Linked DNA regions of Homo sapiens. The protein of the gene in region 1 purifies or fractionates together with the protein of each later gene. This does not show direct contact. Each region holds a gene or a part of one and is shown in the gene's direction. Other genes may lie near its edges.

Region 1 (3,500 bases):
ATACTTGAGGGGAGTGACCGGCACTTCCCTGGTCACCATCTGATGGATTGTGTGCTTTCTGAACAAATAGAGGGTGCTTTCTCCTTGAGGCAGGGCCCAGGGTTTAAGAGTCATCAGCTCAGTGCTCATTTAACATTTATTGAGCCCATACTTTGTGCCAGATGTTGTGCAGGGTTTTGGGGATGCGGTGGTGACCAAAACAGTTAAAAATCCCTGCCCATTTGGAGCTTGATCTTAGTGGGGGAGGCAGGTGGTAATAATATTAAAAATGCCATGTGTGATAATTGATTTGAAGGGAAATAAAGCAGGGTAAGGGTACTGTGGCCAAAGTAGGCCCTTCTGGGGAACTAACATTTTATCAGAGACCAGAATGCAGTGAAGGAGCGAGTGAGCCATGCACATGTCTGCAGGAGCCAGGCAGTGGGAACAGCACGTGGTAAAGATTTAGAAGCTGGACTGTGTATGCTTGGTGGGGAAGAGCATGGGGCCCAGCATAAAGAGAATGAAGTCAGGGAAGTCAGCACAGGCCAGATCCTTAGGATGATGATACTCAATGTGGGCTGCACCTTGGAGTCACCTGGAGAGCTTTAGGGGAAGACCTTGCGCCCAGAACAATGAAATCAGAATTTAAAGCCTAAAGATTTTAGGCTTTGATTTCAGGCTTTGTAAGCCAGGGAAAGGACTTTTTATTTCATTTTGGATGTGGTGGAAAACCATTGGAGGGATTTGGGCAAGGGCATGATGAGATCTTACTTGCTGTTTTAAAAATAGCATGTATTAGCTGCTGTGTGAAAAGTGGACTGTAGAGGGAGTAGAAGATTAAAAGTAAACAACTTTTGGTTGTTTGGGAGTTTTGAAAATGAAACCGTTCATTTTTAAAGATTAAATTAGGAATGGCTGTTAAAAGACACATTTTTTATCTTTAATACCATTAAGGTGCATGAAGGGTTCGTAGGACAAGATCATAATGTATCTTTACAAAAAACATGAGCAAGGCTGGGCGCGCTGGCTCACGCCTGTAATCCCAGCACTTTGGGAGGCTGAGGCGGGCGGATCAAGAGGTCAGGAGATTGAGACCATCCTGGCTAACACGGTGAAACCCCTTCTCTACTAAAAATACAAAAAAATTAGCCGGGCATGGTGGTGGGCGCCTGTAGTCCCAGCTACTGGGGAGGCTGAGGCAGGAGAAAGGCGTGAACCTGGGAGGTGGAGCTTGCAGTGAGCCGAGATCGTGTCACTGCACTCCAGCCTGGGTGACAGAGTGAGACTCCGTCTCAAAAAAAAAAAAAAGCAAGCTTATGATTGAATAGATTACATCATGTGAGAATGTGAGATAATTTTAAACCACTAGTTTTCCAACTATTTTTTTTAACTTGTGTGATTTAGTACTTCTGAGTTTTTGAAACCAAATCAGAGAAAATATTGAATCTGTTAGCACCAGAGTTCTGTTTTAAACGTTGTTTTGTGCTAATGGTGTTTGTTGTCCTGAACTGGTAAGAATAAAGCCTGTCTGAGTCTGTTATTTCTTAAACATTTCGATCTTACTGACAAGTCGCAAACTACTTGTAAAGTGCAGCCTATCCTTAAATGACAGTTTGTTCTGCTTTTTCTTGTTTTTCCCCTGAGCTGAGAGGGACTTCTTTAAGCTTGGAAGCAGGGAGATGAGTTAGGGCTGACATCATCCTGTATTCCCCTCTGTTTTGGGGCTGGGGTTGACACTTTTCTTCCAGCTCCAAGGTCAGGAGTGGGAGAGTATGAAGACGTTTGCAGAGTCTAGGGGGCCCTGTTGTCACAGCATGTGCTCGTATGCAGGGCTCACTCTTCACAGTAATTAATATTGACATGGAATGAATTCTGTGAATCTGCTATGCAACCAAGGAAACCAGGATATTAACAGTAACCTACATCTATTCATGTACTCCTCCCCTATCCCAACCCCATATTAATATCTCCTTCCCATTCACCAATATCATGAGTTTTACATTTCTCATTCCCTTGCTCCTTTTCTTGGGCAGTATGATTGTGGCTGGGTGTGGTGCCTGACACCTGTAATCCCAGCACTTCAGGAGGCCAAGGCAGGAGGATCACTTGAGCCAGGAGCTGGAGACTAGCCTGGGCAACATAGTGAGACCCCCATCTCTACACTATGGGAGTAGTGGCACACACCTGTAATCTAGCTACTTCAGAGACCGAGGCAGGAGAATTGCTTGAGCCCAGGAGTTCGAGGCTGCGGTGAGCTGTGATTGTGCCATTGCTCTCCAACCTGGGCGGCACAGCAAGACCCTGTCTCAAAAAAAAAGCACTAAGCAAAAAAAATTATTATGATTTTAACATTTATTAGTCTGTTGTGTATAACTGAAGGTCATTTTCATGATCTTGATTGTGAATGTCTTCTATTTTATTTGCCCATTCTATTGATGGACATTTGGGTTAGTCTTCACTTTTCTTTTGCTGTGGACATTCTTGGAAATGTGTCCTGCTGTACACGGGCACATGTATTTCAGGTTTCTCACCTGAGAGGTATTGCTGGGTACAAGGTGGTTTAACCTTTTAAGCTTCATTGCCCTGACTCCTGTTTTGTTTCCCCCACAGGATTCAGTCCCCGTGGGGGTGGCTTTGGCGGCCGAGGGGGCTTTGGTGACCGTGGTGGTCGTGGAGGCCGAGGGGGCTTTGGCGGGGGCCGAGGTCGAGGCGGAGGCTTTAGAGGTCGTGGACGAGGAGGAGGTGGAGGCGGCGGCGGCGGTGGAGGAGGAGGAAGAGGTGGTAAGATTGGCTAGGGGTTACAGAGGAGGCCTTCCTGAGGTGGGGAGTGGGGAGGGCGGAGATTCAGGATCTTTCTCTCCTGTTGTACCTCTCCTTTATAGGTGGAGGCTTCCATTCTGGTGGCAACCGGGGTCGTGGTCGGGGAGGAAAAAGAGGAAACCAGTCGGGGAAGAATGTGATGGTGGAGCCGCATCGGCATGAGGGTGAGTGAGGAAGGCAGGGAGCCGGCTGAGCTTCGGGGCAGGGAGAGGCTGGGGGTCCTCACCCCTGCTCTGATCCCCTCACCCAGGTGTCTTCATTTGTCGAGGAAAGGAAGATGCACTGGTCACCAAGAACCTGGTCCCTGGGGAATCAGTTTATGGAGAGAAGAGAGTCTCGATTTCGGTGAGAACTGGGCCCCTGTCCAAGCCACCAGGGTCGCAGCTGAGGGTGTAGCCAGTAGTCTGTGTCTGCCCTCACCATGTGTCCTGCACGTGACAGCTGGAGGATTGTCATAATATGTAAACCACACTGTCTGCTCCCTCATCCGCCTTCTGTGACTCCCCACGGCCTTCCAGTTAGACTCCTGAGTCTTCACTCAGGCCTCCAAGACCCTGTGCATTCCAGTTCCCCCTCCCTGCCCCCTGGCTTTGTCTCCTTCACTAACTCTCTGACCAAGTGTCCTCCAGCCACCCTGGCCTTGCTGTTCCCACTCCCAGCTCTGTGGGAGGCTGCGTCCTTATCATCTGCTTCTCCAG
Region 2 (3,500 bases), on another chromosome or scaffold:
TATATGGTGCTGTGAATTATTGCACTGGGGTTGTTAGGGTAGAGAAAACTGAAACAATGAGTCATCCTTGCCTTTCACTTTCCTAAATTGCCCACAAGCTAATGTCCCAAACTCAGTATTTTTCCCTTACAGATCATTCTGAGTATTGCTGCTGTAACAATTTTCCTAAGTTGTTACTGTTATAACATTATTACTCTAACTCTTATTTCTAGTCTTGCTCTGAACTTTTTAACAGTTTTTTGTTGCCTCCTTAACTATAGCTCCTCTATATGGCTTTCAATCCCTTCTCTGATATAGCTCAACTCTTCCTACCCAACTGTTTCCTGATACTACCCATTATAGACACTTTGCTTGTCAGATAAGTACATTATCTGTGTCTTGTATATAATCATACCATTTCCTTGCTCTTGCTTATGTTGCTATTTTTTCTTCCCACCCCTTAAATCATACATCCTTCAGAGTCTAGTTTAAATCTTGGTTCCGACTTGAAACATCCCTAATTTCTTACTTCTTCACTTTCTCAACAAAGATGAATCCTATGTGACAGGTGTTGTGGTGGGTGCATTACACACCTTCCAGTCTACAAGGTTAAGGTATTATCCCTATTGAGTGAGTGCTTGCTGTGTATGCTAAGCTTGTATTTGCATGCAATGTTTCACTTAAACTCTATGAGAACGTGTTATTTACATTTTACAGTGGCTAACTGTAAGTGGAGATGTGAAGTTTAAAGAGGTTAAGTAAATTCTCCAACATCATTCAGCTAATACATAATAAAGCTGACATTCGAATCCATTTGTGTTTGACTTATTATTGTTTCTAATAAGTGAAAACACAGTGTCTCACCTCAAAGACTCACAGTCTGGTAGAGGAGAAACATAGTACACAGACAGTCTTAATGCCTTGTGGTAAGTTCTGTGATGGAGCTAAGCCCACCGTCGTGTAGAAGCACATTAGGACGGGTGCTGATCTAGAATGAGAAGATGAGGAAGGGCTTCCGGGAGAAAATTCTGAGCTGAATCTTAAAGCAGTAGTCAAGAGTTCTGAGAAATGGGAAAGACTGAAAAACTGTCACTGATTGGAAGGTTCTGAGAAGATATGACAACTAAGGTGGTATGCTGGACTGGGGTCTAGGAACATAAAAAAGACATTAATGGAAAAAGTGAAGAGCTCCAAATAAATTATGTAGTCAATAGTCATGTACCAGTGTTAATATCTTAGTTTTGACTAACATGCTGTGCTTATGTAAAGTGCTAACATTTGTGGAAGCTAGGTGAAGCGTATGCAGGAACTCTGTAATTCTTCTGTAAATCTAAAATTATTTCAAAATTAAAAGTTAAAAAATAAGCTTACTCTTAGGAAATAAAAAAGAAGTAATTAGAAAACGTGTTCTATGTAGATAGCAGAGAGTGCAAAACCATGGAGAGAAAGTTGACTTTGAAGGGTTGCGTTTAAGTAATTGAAGCCATTGTTCTATGCTGAGAAACAAGAAGAGAGGATATTCCTTTTTTCTGAGGAAGCTTATCAGAATCAATTAGGGAAAGTTTTCTTGGCCAACAGTAGCCCCCTACCCACCACTGTCTCAAGGAAGCCATATCTAAAGGACCTCTTCATATTGATAGGGTGTGTCTGGGGGATGGGGGAAATTGTTGGAGTTATGAACTATTTTAATAGAGCACAGTGTTAAGTGAAAAAGTAGTTCAAGTTAGACTGGGATCAGACTACCAAAGCCTTAAGAATTTAGATCATTTCCTAAAGTCAGAGGGAAAACAGTGAAGGATTTTAGCTTTATCTGAGCAAGTAATATGGTCAAATTTGCAAAATTAGTCTGGTGTGACTGTGAAAGCTGCATTGAAGGACTGTACCTGGAGACTGTAGGAAGCCCTGAAGAGTGGCCCAGGCTGGAGATGTTAAGCTTCTGAACTGAAGTACTCATGGGAATGGAGAAGAGGCTCCAGCCAAAGGGCAGGTTATATATCGCAAATGCTTTGTTGCTCATACATTCTTGATCTTATACCATTTCATACAACCATGCCTCCTGGCTGACAGCACTTACAAGAGACCATTGATTATAAGATGCATTCTAATTTCAAAGAGATGAACAAGTGAAAATCAAGTGTCTTGAACTAATAAAATAGGATAGTAGTGGTCCCAGTTTGCAACAAATTTAGTGTGTTGTAATACAGTAGCTCTCCCTTGTCCACAGAGGATATGTTCCAGGACCCTCAGTGGATGCCTAGAACCACAGGTAATACCAGACACTCTATATAGTAAATGTTTTCCTATACATACATACCTATGATAAAGTTTAAGTTATAAATCAGGCACAGAGATTAACATCAATAACTAATAAAATAGAACAATTATAACAATATGTCAGCATCACTACCCTTATACTTTGGGGCCATTATTAAGTAAAATAAGGGTTACTTGAACATAAGTACTTCAGTACAGCAATAGTGGATAGGATAAACTAGACAGTTTCTACGTGACTAACGGGCAGGTGTGTCTACAGCAGAGAATGCTGGAAAAAGGAATGATTCATGTCTCAGGTGAGACAAGGGAATTCACTACTGAGAATGGCATACAATTTTAAACTTATGAATTGTTTCTGGAATTTTCCATTTAATATTTTCAGATTGATCTTGACTGTAGGTAATTAAAACCAGGGAAAGTGAAACCATAAATAAGAGAGTACTGCTATGAATATAATAGACACAGAGCAAATACTTTTTACTTGGAAGATACAAGAAGATTTATATTTCTGCGCCTTGTTCTGTGATAATATCGTGAAAGTAGTCAAACAGTGCCCCAAGTAGCTTAACCACTTTTAGTAATTTAGTAGCTGCTGCTACATGGAAGAAATCCACAAATCCAGAAAGACAAAGCAAAGCTAGCATTTCAGCAACAAGAAACAAAAATGGAATAAAGTCTTTGTATTTTTCTGTACAAAAGGCCCAGACCTCACCAACTGGAGCAGAACCTTTGACTTACCATTTGTAAGCTGGTGTTGCCAGTGAACCATGGAGATGTTGGGGACATGGAAAAACACTGCTGTTGGCAGTACTATTGAAGAGTAATAGTTGATAGTGACTAGTACAGTGTCTGCATCCATTTAATGAGCAGGCAACTTGGTTAAGCTGGCTGTTTTTGCAGGATAATTCCATTTATAGCCTCTGTCTACAAACAGTCAAGAGATATGATATTGGCATCATTAATCTTTTCTGAGTTAATAATCTCTTCTGAGTTAATGAACTGATTGGTCATAGATGTCCCCATAGACAAAAGGCACACAAATTTGAGTATACAATTCTTAAACTATACCAAAAGAAATGTCTGTTGCATTTTTATCATGGACAATAAAAAGATCCTACTACCTATTGAGTATGTGATATGGTTTGGCTGTGTCCCCACCCAAATCTCATTTTGAATTGTAGCTCCCATAATTTCCACATGTGGGAGGGACCCAATTGGAGATAACTGAATCATGGGGGCAGTTTCCC
Region 3 (4,046 bases), on another chromosome or scaffold:
AGCTTCAAGGTGTCTGTGGCCTCAGTCCCAGTCTTGGCAGCAGGTCAAAGGCAGCCCAGCTCCACAGGCACCACAGCCACCCCTACGGGAAATGTGCTGGGAAAGGAGCCATCCCTACTTCAGTCTGTCTGCTCTGGGGCTCCTGGGCCAAGGCCCACAGGTGGCTCTAAACCCTTAGCCCTAGGACCCAGGACCTGGTTCTCCTCTCCCCTGAGGGACTAGGATGGACATGGCAGCAGCTCTGGGATGACTTGGGGAAGGGCCAGGGCTGGGCTGGCGTATGACGGCTGTCGCTCCTGCATTTGCAGGTGTCTGGCCTGCCACCGTGTCTCAAGGCGGCCTGCATACACTCGGGCATGACCAGGAAGCAACGGGAATCTGTCCTGCAGAAGGTGGGGGCCTCATGGGCCTAGGGGTGAGGGAGGCAGCGGGCGGGCACCTGGGCTGTGCCTCTGATCTTGCTGCCTTCAGATTCGGGCAGCCCAGGTACACGTGCTGATGCTGACACCTGAGGCACTGGTGGGGGCGGGAGGCCTCCCTCCAGCCGCACAGCTGCCTCCAGTTGCTTTTGCCTGCATTGATGAGGCCCACTGCCTCTCCCAGTGGTCCCACAACTTCCGGCCCTGCTACCTGCGCGTCTGCAAGGTGAGCCATATGTGAACTGGGGTGGGCGGCCAGGGCCGGGATGGGCTGGGCGGCCTCACACCACTGCCGCCTCTGGTGCAGGTGCTTCGGGAGCGCATGGGCGTGCACTGCTTCCTGGGCCTCACAGCCACAGCCACACGCCGCACTGCCAGTGACGTGGCACAGCACCTGGCTGTGGCTGAAGAGCCTGACCTCCACGGGCCAGCCCCAGTTCCCACCAACCTGCACCTTTCCGTGTCCATGGACAGGGACACAGACCAGGTGGGTGTGTGTGCTCTGGGGACCCTGCAGGGCCCTGGCTGCTGACTGCCCACGCCGACCCCTCCTCACTCCCCACCGCCCACGCCGACCCCTTCTCACTCCCCACCGCCCACGCCGACCCCTCCTCACTCCCCACGCCGACCCCTCCTCACTCCCCACTGCACACGCCGACCCCTCCTCACTCCCCACTGCCCACGCCAACCGCTCCTCATCAGGCACTGTTGACGCTGCTGCAAGGCAAACGTTTTCAAAACCTCGATTCCATTATCATTTACTGCAACCGGCGCGAGGACACAGAGCGGATCGCTGCGCTCCTCCGAACCTGCCTGCACGCAGCCTGGGTCCCAGGGTCTGGAGGTGCGGCATGGACAGAGCTGGTGTCCCCGTGGACCCACCTTGGGCACACATGGTCCCATCCCACTGACCATCTGCCTGTCTTCCCCAAAGGTCGTGCCCCCAAAACCACAGCCGAGGCCTACCACGCGGGCATGTGCAGCCGGGAACGGCGGCGGGTACAGCGAGCCTTCATGCAGGGCCAGTTGCGGGTGGTGGTGGCCACGGTGGCCTTTGGGATGGGGCTGGACCGGCCAGATGTGCGGGCTGTGCTGCATCTGGGGCTGCCCCCAAGCTTCGAGAGCTACGTGCAGGCCGTGGGCCGGGCCGGGCGTGACGGGCAGCCTGCCCACTGCCACCTCTTCCTGCAGCCCCAGGTTGGCACCCCCCCCCCCCACACTGCCAGTGCTCGAGCCCCCAGTGGTCCACCCCACCCTCATGAAAGTTGCCCTGCAGGGCGAAGACCTGCGAGAGCTGCGCAGACATGTGCACGCCGACAGCACGGACTTCCTGGCTGTGAAGAGGCTGGTACAGCGCGTGTTCCCAGCCTGCACCTGCACCTGCACCAGGCCGCCCTCGGAGCAGGAAGGGGCCGTGGGTGGGGAGAGGCCTGTGCCCAAGTACCCCCCTCAAGAGGCTGAGCAGCTTAGCCACCAAGCAGCCCCAGGACCCAGAAGGGTCTGCATGGGCCATGAGCGGGCACTCCCAATACAGCTTACCGTACAGGCTTTGGACATGCCGGAGGAGGGTGAGGAACCTGGGGTAAGCCACAGGGGTGTGGAGGGGCTGTCCCCGCGTCCGCTGAGCCCTGCTCTGCCCCCAGCCATCGAGACTTTGCTGTGCTACCTGGAGCTGCACCCACACCACTGGCTGGAGCTGCTGGCGACCACCTATACCCATTGCCGTCTGAACTGCCCTGGGGGCCCTGCCCAGCTCCAGGCCCTGGCCCACAGGTAAGCACGCCCTGCCCAGTTGGAGACGAGGTTGGAGAATCAGGGCTGTTGGCCACATGTCCCTTTTTCCCTGGGCACAGGTGTCCCCCTTTGGCTGTGTGCTTGGCCCAGCAGCTGCCTGAGGACCCAGGGCAAGGCAGCAGCTCCGTGGAGTTTGACATGGTCAAGCTGGTGGACTCCATGGGCTGGGAGCTGGCCTCTGTGCGGCGGGCTCTCTGCCAGCTGCAGTGGGACCACGAGCCCAGGACAGGTGCGCCTCTCCCCACCCCACACCGCCCTGGACGCTGCCTGCCTGCATCTGACATGCTTTCCGGCAGGTGTGCGGCGTGGGACAGGGGTGCTTGTGGAGTTCAGTGAGCTGGCCTTCCACCTTCGCAGCCCGGGGGACTTGACCGCTGAGGAGAAGGACCAGATATGTGACTTCCTCTATGGCCGTGTGCAGGCCCGGGAGCGCCAGGCCCTGGCCCGTCTGCGCAGAACCTTCCAGGCCTTTCACAGGTTGGGAGGAGGCGGGCGGGGCCTGGGACCATCCACCCTCCCGCAGTGATCAGCTCTGACAGGCTCCTCCCCACAGCGTAGCCTTCCCCAGCTGCGGGCCCTGCCTGGAGCAGCAGGATGAGGAGCGCAGCACCAGGCTCAAGGACCTGCTCGGCCGCTACTTTGAGGAAGAGGAAGGGCAGGAGCCGGGAGGCATGGAGGACGCACAGGGCCCCGAGCCAGGGCAGGCCAGAGTGAGTGCAGTAAGGCCAGGCAGCTCATCGGGGTTGCAGGTTCCCTGGGCTGCATGGGGCTTGCTCTGTGGATGCAGTGCCACGGGAGCTCAGAGGAAGCCTGATGTGCCTGTCCACACAGCTCCAGGATTGGGAGGACCAGGTCCGCTGCGACATCCGCCAGTTCCTGTCCCTGAGGCCAGAGGAGAAGTTCTCCAGCAGGGCTGTGGCCCGCATCTTCCACGGCATCGGTGAGGCCTGGGAGGCCCCACCCGCTGCAGGCTGGGGCTGGGGGCTGGGGCAGGTGAGGCCTGGGAGGCTCCACCCGCTGCAGGCTGGGGCTGGGGCTCACGGCTGTGTCTTGGCTCCACCGTAGGAAGCCCCTGCTACCCGGCCCAGGTGTACGGGCAGGACCGACGCTTCTGGAGAAAATACCTGCACCTGAGCTTCCATGCCCTGGTGGGCCTGGCCACGGAAGAGCTCCTGCAGGTGGCCCGCTGACTGCACTGCATTGGGGGATGTCGGGTAGAGCTGGGGTTGTCAGAGGCTAGGGCAGTGACTGAGGACCTGGGCAAAACCTGCCACAGGGTGTGGGAACGAGGAGGCTCCAAAATGCAGAATAAAAAATGCTCACTTTGTTTTTATGGGCCCTCTTGGCCAATGAGGCAACCCCCACAAGCTGGGGACAAGCACATCACATATTCCAGGCACAGAGACATCTGGGCCACAGGCACATGTGGCTTTATTGACCACTCCAGCCACTCAGCTCAGAGAAAGGTGCTGGGTGCTAGGTCCAGGTACAGAACGGGAAAGGCAGAGAGGATGAGCAGGAGCAAGAAGCAGGGATGTGGCCCCAACCCATCAGCCAGGCCTCCGGCCAGAGTGCCCAGCAGCAGCTTCCCCAGCAGCTCCAGCGTGGCCAGAAGGCTGTAGTGTGTGGCCTGAGGGGGGTGGGGGTCACGGTCAAGGTCAGGCCCACACAGCCCCAGCCCCGTGGTCTCTCTTGTGTCCCTGCTACATCTACTCACCTGCAGGGCCCTGGGGGCCAGCTGGCTGCAGCGCATCATCCCAGTGAAGGTGACTGTGGTGACCAGGCCTCCCAAGAAGTGCTGCAGACATAGGCTCAGCAAGGCTGACCCTGGGA
Region 4 (3,500 bases), on another chromosome or scaffold:
GCAGCTGTATTTGTTCAGCTGTTTTTTTTTTTAATTGCTATTAACCTTATGAACTTAGTGGTAAAAGTAAATGGTGTGTGTGTCTCTTATCCTGTTTTAAACTTAATGGAAAGGGCATGTTGCTGTGAACAAATGGAGTGTATTTGTATTTGTCTCCTCTAATCATTAATAATTAATTTTCTCTTAAAATATTGAAGCCTAGAATTCTGGTAAAGCCAAAAGTTTATGCTGATCATTGGGACGTTTTACAGTGTGAAAGGTGGCATTTGGTCTAGGTAGATTGTTTTGCTTTGTTCAGATCAAAGTCTTTCTTTTTAGAAATGGAACCTGGTCAGACCCTGAGGCGACATAATGAGAAGCCAAGAAAGGTTGAGGGACCTCACTAGGGAAGTCTCAGAAAAGCAGCCATTAAGATAGCAGGCTTTCAGAAAGAACTGAGAGGAAATCATGATCATAACATTAGCTTTATGATGTGTTATTTGAATTGCGTACAGACAGTAGGAGGAGTTAGCTGGCCATGCAACTATTTAGTAAATAGCTCTTCTTGCTGCCCACATACTTGCAATAGGAAGTAATTGTAGGCAGAAGCCAATAGTTGTGAGTGTCAGGAACCATGAGTGAGGAGGAATGATGCTACAGAGAGAGGGTTTCAGGGATCCACTGGATGATAGAGGGCTTATTTTTACTTAATGCCAAGGGGTTATGTGAGTACCATGCACATTTATAATTGACTTACAAATAAAATAATTAGAAAAATCTTCAAACAGTTGGACAAAAGACAGGCCTAATTTATAGAGAGTTAACAACACGAAGAAACATTTACTAATAAAACAATAAATTTATATAGCTAGGAAATACTGTCATACAGATATTTTAAATGACACTTTTAAATGACACTACCCAGTGCTGCCCAGTTGCATTAAAATGGACATATCCCACATTGTAGTGTATACTGGTACAGCTCTTTGGAAAAATAATTAGCCCTAAATATCAAAAGCCATAAAATTGTTCATACCTTTTGATTCAGTAATGTCATTTGTGAAATTTTATCCTAAGGAAATAATTCAAAAGAAGAACTACGTGGGGGGGAAATGTTTATTGAAGTATTACTTATAATAGTAAAAAACAGGAAACAAGTCTTAAGTTGAAGAGTAGGTAAGTAAAATATGTTTTATTACAAATTAGAACACAGTAATATCTGTACATTAAAATACATGCATGGGGGCCAGGTGCGGTGGCTCATGCCTGTAATCCCAGCACTTTGGGAGGCTGAGGCAGGTGGCTCACCTGAGGTCAGGAGTTTGATACCAGCCTGGGCAACATGGTGAAACCCTGTCTCTTCTAAAAATACAAAATATTAGCCCGGTGTGGTGGCGCACCCCTGTAATCCCAGCTCCTCCACAGGCTGAGGCATGAGAATTGCTTGAACCTGGGAGGTAGAGGTTGCAGTGAGCCAAGATTGCACCACTGCACTCCAGCCTGGGTGACAGAGCAAGACTCTGTCTCTAAATAAATAAATAAATAAATAAAATACAAGCATGAGGATTTTACAGTGAAAATACTTGGTTTAAGTTGCTGAGATTATGGATGATTTATTGTACCCTCTTAAAATGGACTTTGTTTTTTAACATAAATATTAAGGGCAATTAAATCATTTGTTTACTGAATGGATGTGGTTTGCTGCCAGGTCTGGCTTTGAACTGGTGATTGTTATACTTGTTTTTAGACATTTCTCTTGGGAAGTTGTGCATCTGACAGGAATATAGTACTGTACGATATGAGGCAAGCTACTCCTTTGAAAAAGGTGAGTTTCAGTTTTGACTTTTGCTTTATACAGTTGGCATTATATATTTCTCTGTAAATAGAGTGACTAACAATATGGAGCAAATATTTTCTCAGAATTAAAAAAATCTTTTATACAGGTGTTCTTAGAACTCTACATGATGATAGTCATGTTCTTTCAGCTCCCTATTGCTTTTTAGAGACTCTTAAATTTCTGCTAGGTATTGTATCCTAGTCACCAACCTTGTGTCTTCCATGATGCCAGTACATTTTAGGCCTCTAATTAATACTTACTGAATTGAAAGTTCTTAAAGGTATTGCATCCTGTTACTTAACAGTGTAATAATATTCAAATAATATTCAATAAATTCAAGCCCCATGATTATCGTATGACATGTACACTATTTTATTCCAGAAGGTTTTAGAACTCATTCACGTAACCAGCTTTATTTGTTCAGTTACATGCTGATCAATACTAGTTTGACATTTAGGCAACCACTATCCTGTTCAAAGTAACAGATTTCCTAACAATTCTAAAGTAGTAATTTCAGGACTTACATATCAGAGCTAATAATACAACTTAAGCTAACTCTCAAGAGGGAGACAGATACTGTCTGTAAGTAAGGAAAGGAGTGCCATTGTAAGTAAAAGGGTATAAAGTTTATTTCAGGTACTAGAATTTTGAGTGACAGAAAGGGCTGGACATCATTGAGATGCCACAAGTCTGTTGTCGTAGTCCACATACAAAAGAAATGCTTTTAATACTTGCTTTTGTTATTCCTAAATCATTTTTATAACGTAACAACTAGATATTAGGAGAGTACATTCATTGAAGTTTGAAGTAGATAAATATGATAATCTTTCCAAAGTACCACTTATATGATTTCACTCATTCATGTGATTTAATGGGAAGATCCTATATGAACTTTGGTCTTAGACTTTTAAGCACGTTAACCTAAAATGTGTTTCTCCTGTAAGGTGGTGGTATTAATAACTATCTCGCAGCACTTCGCTGAGAATAAAACATGATACTTTAAGCATTTAGCAGAATGCTGACATGAGGTACTAGTTTAATGAATAGTCATTTCTGCCCCCTCCCACCTACCTAACACTCATTCTGTTTTTTTTTTAATTTAGTTTATTTTTCATTGTTATTGCCTCCTGCTTTGCACATTCTCAGTTTTTAATGGAGCTCCATTAATTTTAGGTTGAAGAAAATGTAGCCTGGCTTTCAAGGTGCTCTGAAATCTGGTTCTAATTTGCAACTCATTTATTTCTTTTAGTCAGTTAGGTAACATTGAATTGGAGTTTGTCACATGCAGGTCACTTTGATAGATGTAGGGATTGTTAGACACTGCTACTTTCTGTTGCTTCTTTGCTCCATCTACTAGTCTATCAATGTTTCTTTTATCCTTTCTCTCATAAATGTAGTAGTTCTTAGTCAGGGATTGTAGTCCCCTACCAGGTACAGTTCTGGGAATGCAAGAGGGACATGTAGTGGGAGGTCCCTGAGTGGCAAAACATCCTACAGTGGATAGTCATACACAACAAAAGATAATCCTGCTCAAAATGCCAACAGTGTTCCCATTGAGAAACACTGAATTACTGATCCTTCACAGGTCAGTTCAAATCATACTTGTCTTTAGAAACAGTTCTTTATGTTAACCCTAAGCTCACCATTAATTTTGCCCCTAATTTGATACTTAGTCATTTGTTAC
Region 5 (3,500 bases), on another chromosome or scaffold:
TTTTGCTGGAATTTATGTACACTTCACAAATATTATTTAATGGTCATAACAGTTCTGTGAGGTAGGAACTGTTATTACCAATGACCCAGGAAGTGGTGCATCCAGGATTTTACCAGGCAGCCTGGCCTGGACTCCCTCACTCAGCCTCCATGCTTTGTGGAGTGTCCAGAGAAGAATGCTTTTCAGATCTTTAATATGTTGAATCTGTGGGCAGAATATCCAACTAACGATGATTTCTTTTTATAGGAGGTCGTTATGTTAAAGTCTGGGACATGTTAAAAGGAGGACAATTGCTAGTATCTTTGAAAAATCATCACAAAACCGTGACATGTTTATGTCTAAGCAGCTCTGGACAGAGGTTACTCTCTGGCTCACTGGATAGGTTGGCATTTTAATTTTTTTGTATATTATTATTAGTGTACACCTGTTTACTGCTTGAGGAAATGAGTTATTTCAGCAATATTTGTGATAAGTATACAGATAATGATTTCCAGGAGAAAAAAACCTGTTGAGTTGAAAATAGTTTTGACCTTTTGTTTACATATAGCTACTTCTTTTCTTTTCTTTTTTTTTGAGACAGAGTCTCACTCTGTCACCTAGGCTGGAGTGCAGTGGTGCAATCTCGGCTCGCTGCAACCTCCGCCTCCCAGGTTCAAGTGGTTCTCCTGCCTCAGCCTCCTGAGTAGCTGGGATAACAGGCACGCGCCACAATGCCCGGCTAAGTTTTTTATTTTTAGTAGAGACGGAGTTTCACCATGTTGGTCAGGCAGGTCTTGAACTCCTGACCTCGTGATCCGCCCACCTCAGCCTCCCAAAGTGCTGGGATTACAGGCGTGAGCCACCACACCCGGCCACCCATAGCTACTTATTTTCTCCTTTGACACAATTTGTTTTAACTTGTATACTTAAACAACATTATTGAACCATTTGAATGATAATCTTTCAAATAATGTTATTCTATAAACCATCTTTTAAAATCATTATTGTACATTCATATATTTTGAAGTTTTTTTTTTTTTTTTTGAGACAGAGTCTTGTTCTGTTGCCCAGGCTGGTGTGCAGTGGCACAATCTGGGCTTACTGCAACCTCTGTCTCCCAGGTTCAAGCGATTCTCGTGACCCAGCCTCCCAAGTAGCTGGGATTACAGGTGTGCAGCACCATGCCTGGCTAATTTTTGTATTTTTAGTAGAGACGGGGTTTCGCCATATTGCCCAGACTGGTCTCGAACTTCTGGCCTCGTGTGGTCTGCCCACCACGCCCTCCCAAAGTGCTGGGATTACAGGTGTGAGCCACTGTGCCTGGCCTGAAAAGTTTTTTAAAAATTAGATAAATTAATTTTTTTTTTTTTTTTGAGATGACATCTCGCTCTGTTGCCCAGGCTGGAGTGCAGTGGTGGGATCTCAGCTCACTGCAACCTCTGCTTCCCGGGTTCAAGCGATTCTGCCTCAGCTTCCTGAGTGGCTGGGATTATAGGCGCTTGCCACCTTGCCCGGCTAATTTTTGTATTTTTAGTAGAGACAGAGTTTCGCCGTGATGGCCAGGCTGGTCTGGAACTTCTGACTTCAGGTGATCCACTCACCTTGGCCTCCCAAAGTGCTGGGATTACAGGCATGAGCCACCACGCCTGACCTAAAAGTTAGATAGCACATTTTATTTAGCCTAATATCTAATGTAAAAATAAAATATATATTACATATAAAATATAATTTCAGTATGTAATCTATGTCAAAATTATTAAGATACTAGAAATAAATTAAGCATCTAAACATGTGCACTATGATACAATAATCATATTTTAGGTTGGTACAGTGGCTTACACCTGTAATCCCAGTGCTTTGGGAGGCTGAGGTGGGAGGATCACTTGAGGCCAGGAGTTTGAGACCAGCCTAGGGAATATAGTGAGACCCCATCTCTACAAAAAATTAAAAAAATTAGCTGGCCACAGTGGTACACACCTTTAATCATAGCTACTAGGGAGGCTGAGGCAGGAGAAGCACTTAAGCCGGAGTTTGAGGTTGCAGTGAGCTGTGATAGTACCACTGTACTCTATCCTGGGTTACAGTGATACCCTGTCTCTAAAAAAAAAAAGATAATATTTTATAAAAATTACTGTCTCAGTTTTTAAATTAAAATTAGATAAAATAAAAAATTTAGTTTCTCATTTTCACTAGCCACATTTCAAGTGGTCAGTAGCCATGTGCAGCTAGAAGTATGGCACAGTTCTAGAATTTACATGATTTATTATTAATTTTTTTTTTTTTTGAGACAGGGTTTTGCTCTGTCGCCCAGGCTGGAGGGCAGTGGCATGATCTTGGCTGACTGCAACCTCCACCTCCTGGCTTCGAGCGATCCCCTCGCCTCAGCTTCCTCAGTAGCTGGGACCACCGGCACGCGCCACTGTACCTGACTCATTTTTGTATTTTTGTTGAGATGGGGTTTTGCCATGTTGCCGAGGCTGGTCTCAAACTCCTGAGTTCAACAGATCCTCCCACCTCAGCCTCCCAAAGTGCTGGATTACTGGCGTGAGCCACCGTGCCCGGCTTACATGATCTATTTTTTATTATTTTATTTCCATATTTTCATTTTTTTCTGCTCTTATGAAAAACTTTAGTTTTCAGCATGTTAATTAAAAAGTATACAGTCATCTCTTGGTAACTGAGGAGAATTGGTTGTGGATGCCCAAGTCCCTTATTTAAAATGGCATATTTGCATATAACCTACACACATCCACTGTATACTTTAAATCATGGCTTGCTTATTTGTAATACCTAATACAATGCAAATGCTATGTAAATAGTTGTTACACTGTATTTTAAAATTCTGTATTGTTTATATATTTATGGATATTTTCAATCCATGGTTGGTTGAATCTGCAGATGTGGAACCTGCCATAAGAAGGATTGACTGTACATATTTTAAAAGCTAGAAAATATTTTTAATACAAAGGAATTTTTTATGTAAATACATGGCAAGTTTACACATGTTACTGAAATCATGTTACTCGGCAATTTGGGACTTGATTCTTAGGTATGTTCCTAAAAGCTAAGTGTAAATTGGCTCTATTTGTGGTGGTTTCAACCAAGAGTGATTTTTGTTCCTCAAGGAACGTTTGACAATATCTTGAGAAAGTATTGTTTTTTATCACAACTCATGGTACTTACCATATAGGGGATAGAGGCCAGGAAGGCTGCTAAACATCCTACAATGCACAGAACAACCCCCACAAAAAAGAATTCTGTGCCCCAAAATGACAGTAATTCTGAGGTTGAGAATCCCTGATCTTTGGCTTCATGTGTACTTTCTTTCTTTCTTTTTTTTTTTTTAATTTATTTTTTTAGAGACAGGGTTTCTTCAAGTTGCCCAGGCTGGTCTTGAACTCCTGGGCTCAAACAATCTGCTGTCCTTGGCCTCCCAGAGTGCTGGGATTACAGGTGTGAGCCATCACACTTGGCTTTGTGATGTGCTTTCATTGATAATTTTTTCTTTTTTTTTTTTTAAG
Region 6 (2,928 bases), about 19 Mb from region 1:
CAGAGTCCTGCTATCAGCTGGGCTGGCCTCAAACCCTCCATGGCTAGTCACTGCCATAATTGATGGGTCATTTTTTTCACCCTTCATCTTTGTGTTCAGCAAACATTTCCTGAGTGCTCACAGTGGTCAGGCCCAGTCCAGGCAATGTAGACACAGCCTCAATCAGGACGACCCTGGTCCTGCTTTTCTGGGGCTCATGGTGTGGTGGGAGAGGCAGTCGGTAAGCAGGATTCAGGAGTATAGTCTAGAGCACTGGATGGAGGTCATTGCAGGAGCAGGTTGGGGAGTGGGTGCCTGAGAAGGGGGACAGGGGCGGGGGGAAGGGGGTAAGCAATGGAAAGAGTGTGGGTGGAATAGCCAGTGTGGAGATGTATGCAGCATACAGCAGCCGCTAGTTTTCCTCAGCTTCACATCCTGGGTGTCGGGGGGCTGCCACCTTGATCATGGGAGTGCCCAGTGTAGTCAGTGCCATACCTATCAGGGCAGATTGTTCCTCCAAACCCCAGCCCCTCCTGCAGGGCCAGCCTCACCTCTACTTTTCCCCTAAGCTTTTGTGCCAGCTCCGGGGTTCCTTCTTGCCTGTCCACTCAGCCTGCCCTGGTCCTCTCCTAACCAGGATGCCCCAGGCAACCACTGTTTCTCTGCCTTTAGGTTCCTGGAGTTTGACAGAGGATAGAGATGTTTCTGGAGAATGGCCACGAGCTTTCCCAGATACCCCACCTGGGATGACTACTAGCGTCTTCCCTGTTGCCGGTGCCTGCCACAGTGTAAAAAGCCTGCAGAGACAACGGGGTGCCTCCCCATCTCGGGAGAGAAAACCCACGGGGGTGTCGGTGATCTACTGGGAGAGGCTCCTGCTAGGCTCAGGCAGTGGGCAAGCCAGCGTCAGCCTGCGACTGACCTCCCCGCTTAGGCCTCCCGAGGGCGTCCGGCTTAGAGAAAAGACACTCACAGAGCATGCGTTGCTGGGGAGGCAGCCCAGGACGCCTGAGCGGCAGAAACCATGTGCACAGGAGGTCCCTGGGAGAACCTTTGGGAGCGCCCAGGACCTGGAGGCTGCCGGCGGTCGGGGACATCACCGAATGGGTGCAGTTTGGCAGGAGCCTCATAGACTCCTCGGTGGCCAGGAGCCCTCGACCTGGGACGAGCTGGGCGAGGCTCTTCACGCTGGGGAGAAGTCCTTCGAATGCAGGGCGTGCAGCAAAGTGTTCGTGAAGAGCTCCGACCTCCTCAAGCACCTACGCACCCACACCGGGGAGCGGCCCTACGAGTGCGCCCAGTGCGGCAAGGCCTTCAGCCAGACGTCGCACTTGACGCAGCACCAGCGCATCCACAGCGGCGAGACGCCCTACGCGTGCCCCGTGTGCGGCAAGGCCTTCCGGCATAGCTCCTCGCTGGTGCGGCACCAGCGCATCCACACGGCCGAGAAGTCCTTCCGCTGCTCCGAGTGCGGCAAGGCCTTCAGCCACGGCTCCAACCTCAGCCAGCACCGCAAGATCCACGCGGGTGGGCGTCCTTATGCTTGCGCACAGTGTGGCCGCCGCTTCTGCCGCAACTCGCACCTGATCCAGCACGAGCGTACGCACACAGGCGAGAAGCCCTTCGTGTGCGCGCTCTGCGGTGCTGCCTTCAGCCAGGGCTCCTCGCTCTTTAAGCACCAGCGCGTGCACACAGGCGAGAAGCCCTTCGCCTGCCCACAGTGCGGCCGCGCCTTTAGCCACAGCTCCAACCTCACCCAGCACCAGCTCCTGCACACGGGCGAGCGGCCCTTCCGCTGCGTGGACTGTGGCAAGGCCTTCGCCAAGGGCGCCGTGCTGCTCAGCCACCGGCGCATTCACACGGGCGAGAAGCCCTTCGTGTGTACGCAGTGTGGCCGCGCCTTCCGTGAGCGCCCGGCCCTCTTCCACCACCAGAGGATCCATACCGGCGAGAAGACCGTCCGGCGATCCAGGGCCAGCCTGCACCCCCAGGCCAGGTCTGTTGCCGGGGCATCATCAGAAGGTGCGCCAGCGAAGGAAACCGAGCCCACTCCCGCCTCGGGCCCAGCCGCCGTCTCGCAGCCAGCGGAGGTCTGAGGTCACAGGTTGCAGCCCTGGCCTTCTGTGAATCCCTTCCACAGCTAAAGGGCATATGTCCTCTGCAGATCCACAGCAGAGAAAAAGTCCCGTGCTTGCTAGTCAGGGACAAGGGAGGCCCTTTGGCTGTGATTTCATTTGCACGTGGGGACAGGATTTGCCAGTTCACCCACAGATCACACCTCCATCCCCAAAGAGGTAGCACTGCAGCAACATCAGGGGGAGGACGTGGTGGCTGAACTCTAGTGGGGCCGAGACTATTCAGAGCCAGTAGGAGGCCGACAGTCACAGCACTGCACTGTGGTGCGGCTTCATGTGATATGACAGTGGATGCTAAGGTGAGAGGGATGCAGGCATGGGTTGGGGGTGGCCCAGAGAAACTTATGACAGCTGTACACAAACTGGCCGCTGGAGAGATGCCCGCTGAGGGTATTCTCCCCTCAACCCACTGCCTCTGTTCATCCAAGACTTCCTAGGGGCCAGCCTAGCAGACAAGAGACCACAAGGGACTGGGGATCAGGGTCTGGGCTCTGTCAGCCGCCACCTCTGGGAAAGAGAAAAGGTTTGGGTCCACTGAACATCATGTTTGTAGACGCTGACAGGTGGGGTCCTAATGAGAGCCAACACATGCTCACTGCCAGCTCCTGTCCTGAGTACTGGGAAGTTTCTCCTGAAGCCCTGTGAGATGGCTCTGTGGCTGGTATCCCGACTTGGAAGATGAGGAAACTGAGGCACACGGCCTGGCCTGGCTTCACACACATAGCCGACTCAGGAGAGGGATGCCCATGGGGGAACATGTGACTCTCAGCATTGGAAGGACAGAGCTAGGATGATGGCTTTCCGGTGGCACTCG
Region 7 (2,247 bases), on another chromosome or scaffold:
TCTCGCTCACCTGGATTCTAGGGGGAAATGAAAAAAGATATATTTAAGAAATAGTGTATTTATGTTTTGAATGTAAATATTTCTTCTTAAATATTGAAATTAAACCAACCAATACCTATTTTTCTCTCTCCTTTGTCCCTTTCTTTTCAGAGAAGCATCATTACTTGAGAAAGAGACCACTAGATTTTTCTTTTTCTCTAAGAATGATGAACGACTTCAAGGTCAGTCCATTTTTTTCATCAAATTACATACATAGAACAGGTAATAATACAGCTACAGTAATTCACATCCAGGAATTTTGACCGTTGGTAATGTCATGTGGTTTAACCCCATTTGTTCACACTGATGAATGTTAACTTGTAAAGCTGTCAAGGTCTGAGAGCTCCCCACTCACCACTTTCTTTGCCCGCTCATTCTCATCAACAAAGGGTTGTTTTGTTCCAAGGGCTTCCTTAGATGTTAGACATATAAAACCCCTAAGTTTTAGTGCCATAAATTCCATGTGAAAACTCAGGCTGTTGGGGAGCTCATTTCTTAAAGCCTAGCATAAACAAAGTTACATAATAGTAAATGATATATATAAACAGTAAAAGCAATATTATATTTTTCATTTGGAAAGAAAAAATACTAATTTTTGAAAATAGGTAGAAACTGAGGGAAAAGAATGATCTTAACTGGTATTCGAGACCTTGATAATGCCAACACTTAGAATATTACCAATTTTAGTAGTAGTTTGCTGCCTCATCTTTCTTCTTTTTCCCCTAATAGGTTCTGACTTATTCTGGAGAGGAGTAGGAAGTAATATGAGCAGGAACTCTTGGGAGGCCAGAACAACCAACCTGCGTATGGTGAGTAATTGTTTCTCCATATTATTTCCTAAAATAGACATGTTACCTATCTAGAATTACAGTCCTGGAAGGGAACTCATGAATGGTATAGGTGAGGAGACTGCAGACTGGCTCAATTGAGTGACTGGTCTCAGAATCCAGCCAAGCCTATTAAGTAACACGAAAGCATCAGATTTTTAAAGACTGAATTATAGTTCCCATTATAAACAGTTAATGCCAAAAATGCCAATATCCCCTCTTCATTTCAAAAGAGCACTTTCAAAATAGGTTTCCACAGCCCTGACAGTGAGAATAACCTGTTTTACTTCTATCTACTGAACATCTTAAAAACAATTTGTTTATTGCTAACCAAGTCTTTTTTTTTTCCTAGGATTGTCGAAAGAAACATAAAGACGCAAAAAGGAAAATGAAACCAAAATAATAAATGTCAGCTGGTTTTGATACTGAATGTGAACAAGGCTCACCTAAGGAAACTGACCCAGAAAACAGTTTTAGCTGACAAAGAAGAAATTTCAGAGTGAAGGAATTTTAAAAATCTGGCTGACGGAATATCATTCTGGTTGCCATCTTTTTCTGTGGAACTCCTCTGCATTTCTTCCTAAGTAATTACTTCAAAAATTAAATTCAACTTCTTATAAAGGAAGAACAAGATAGTCCTTGAAAATACTTTTTGTATATAATCTCTTTGCCCTCTATCCTGAGTAACTAATGGACATCTTCTCATGCAAGGTTTATATGAAGCCTTTTTAAATAAATGAGTCAAAGCACTTGTATTTTCCAGCCTAGGCTTTGTGTGAATTATAGGCTATTTGAAATTTTATTTCTGATTATGTCAAATACACCTTCCATTTTGTCATTTTTGTTTAAACTGATAAATTACAAGTCAACATTGAGTTTTATACTTGTGTTTTGGTGAATGGTTAACTGAAATATAGGACATTTCAGACCAACATCATATAAGAGTTCTGTGAGGACCAGGAGAGGAAGCCAAATACAGTTATCTTGTCATTGCCTCTAGGAATTAAGGAACAACATCTAGATGTACACCAATCCCAAAATTCTAGTTAGACTAAAAGCTTATGAAAAATACCAAGTGCCTGAAAGATAGGTAGTCACAATTAGGAGTCAGGACCCTGAGCCCAAATAGGGAAACAGATTTAACATTACATTAAATAAACCAACCTGCCTAGATTTCAAGACATACGTCTCCTATCAAAATGGGCTCTGTATGAAATAGTATTACATAGGCCGGGCGTGATGGCGCACACCTGTAATCTCAGTACTTTGGGAGGCCAAGGCGGGCGGATCATGAGGAGGTCAGGATTTCAAGACCAGCCTGGCCAACATGGTGAAACCCCATCTCTACTAAAAATGCAAAAATTAGCTGGGTGTGGTGGCT

The links.
Region 2: the proteins of FBL (region 1) and WDR75 purify together in Homo sapiens (affinity purification with mass spectrometry; 3 studies listed by BioGRID and IntAct, with this or other methods). This does not show direct contact.
Region 3: the proteins of FBL (region 1) and RECQL4 purify together in Homo sapiens (affinity purification with mass spectrometry; 4 studies listed by BioGRID and IntAct, with this or other methods). This does not show direct contact.
Region 4: the proteins of FBL (region 1) and DCAF13 purify together in Homo sapiens (affinity purification with western blotting; 3 studies listed by BioGRID, with this or other methods). This does not show direct contact.
Region 5: the proteins of FBL (region 1) and UTP15 purify together in Homo sapiens (affinity purification with mass spectrometry; 4 studies listed by BioGRID and IntAct, with this or other methods). This does not show direct contact.
Region 6: the proteins of FBL (region 1) and ZNF324 purify together in Homo sapiens (affinity purification with mass spectrometry; 3 studies listed by BioGRID and IntAct, with this or other methods). This does not show direct contact.
Region 7: the proteins of FBL (region 1) and NOL8 purify together in Homo sapiens (affinity purification with mass spectrometry; 3 studies listed by BioGRID and IntAct, with this or other methods). This does not show direct contact.

What each region holds. Positions count from the first base shown.
Region 1 is NC_000019.10:39,839,880-39,843,379, reverse strand, and holds part of FBL (rRNA 2'-O-methyltransferase fibrillarin), read left to right. Parts: intron 1-2,592; coding exon 2,593-2,763; intron 2,764-2,864; coding exon 2,865-2,966; intron 2,967-3,052; coding exon 3,053-3,147; intron 3,148-3,500.
Region 2 is NC_000002.12:189,444,474-189,447,973, forward strand, and holds part of WDR75 (WD repeat-containing protein 75), read left to right. Parts: intron 1-3,500. UniProt on the Homo sapiens protein: Ribosome biogenesis factor. Part of the small subunit (SSU) processome, first precursor of the small eukaryotic ribosomal subunit.
Region 3 is NC_000008.11:144,510,788-144,514,833, reverse strand, and holds the end of RECQL4 (ATP-dependent DNA helicase Q4), read left to right. Parts: intron 1-308; coding exon 309-392; intron 393-471; coding exon 472-645; intron 646-726; coding exon 727-906; intron 907-1,121; coding exon 1,122-1,263; intron 1,264-1,353; coding exon 1,354-1,616; intron 1,617-1,695; coding exon 1,696-1,987; coding exon of another isoform or gene 1,988-2,062; coding exon 2,063-2,192; intron 2,193-2,272; coding exon 2,273-2,442; intron 2,443-2,509; coding exon 2,510-2,690; intron 2,691-2,766; coding exon 2,767-2,923; coding exon of another isoform or gene 2,924-2,932; intron 2,933-3,044; coding exon 3,045-3,153; intron 3,154-3,278; coding exon 3,279-3,403; 3' UTR 3,404-3,546; downstream 3,547-4,046. Other genes in the region: SLC33A2 (major facilitator superfamily domain-containing protein 3), read right to left, coding at 3,670-4,040. UniProt on the Homo sapiens protein: An ATP-dependent DNA helicase which unwinds dsDNA with a 3'-overhang in a 3'-5' direction. Does not unwind more than 18 bp of dsDNA. May modulate chromosome segregation. The N-terminal domain (residues 1-54) binds DNA Y-shaped DNA better than ss- or dsDNA.
Region 4 is NC_000008.11:103,428,886-103,432,385, forward strand, and holds part of DCAF13 (DDB1- and CUL4-associated factor 13), read left to right. Parts: intron 1-1,726; coding exon 1,727-1,804; intron 1,805-3,500. UniProt on the Homo sapiens protein: Part of the small subunit (SSU) processome, first precursor of the small eukaryotic ribosomal subunit.
Region 5 is NC_000005.10:73,572,243-73,575,742, forward strand, and holds part of UTP15 (U3 small nucleolar RNA-associated protein 15 homolog), read left to right. Parts: intron 1-246; coding exon 247-382; intron 383-3,500. UniProt on the Homo sapiens protein: Ribosome biogenesis factor. Involved in nucleolar processing of pre-18S ribosomal RNA. Required for optimal pre-ribosomal RNA transcription by RNA polymerase I.
Region 6 is NC_000019.10:58,470,080-58,473,007, forward strand, and holds part of ZNF324 (zinc finger protein 324A), read left to right. Parts: intron 1-651; coding exon 652-2,075; 3' UTR 2,076-2,928. UniProt on the Homo sapiens protein: May be involved in transcriptional regulation. May be involved in regulation of cell proliferation.
Region 7 is NC_000009.12:92,296,858-92,299,104, reverse strand, and holds the end of NOL8 (nucleolar protein 8), read left to right. Parts: intron 1-150; coding exon 151-221; intron 222-768; coding exon 769-848; intron 849-1,218; coding exon 1,219-1,269; 3' UTR 1,270-1,747; downstream 1,748-2,247. UniProt on the Homo sapiens protein: Plays an essential role in the survival of diffuse-type gastric cancer cells. Acts as a nucleolar anchoring protein for DDX47. May be involved in regulation of gene expression at the post-transcriptional level or in ribosome biogenesis in cancer cells.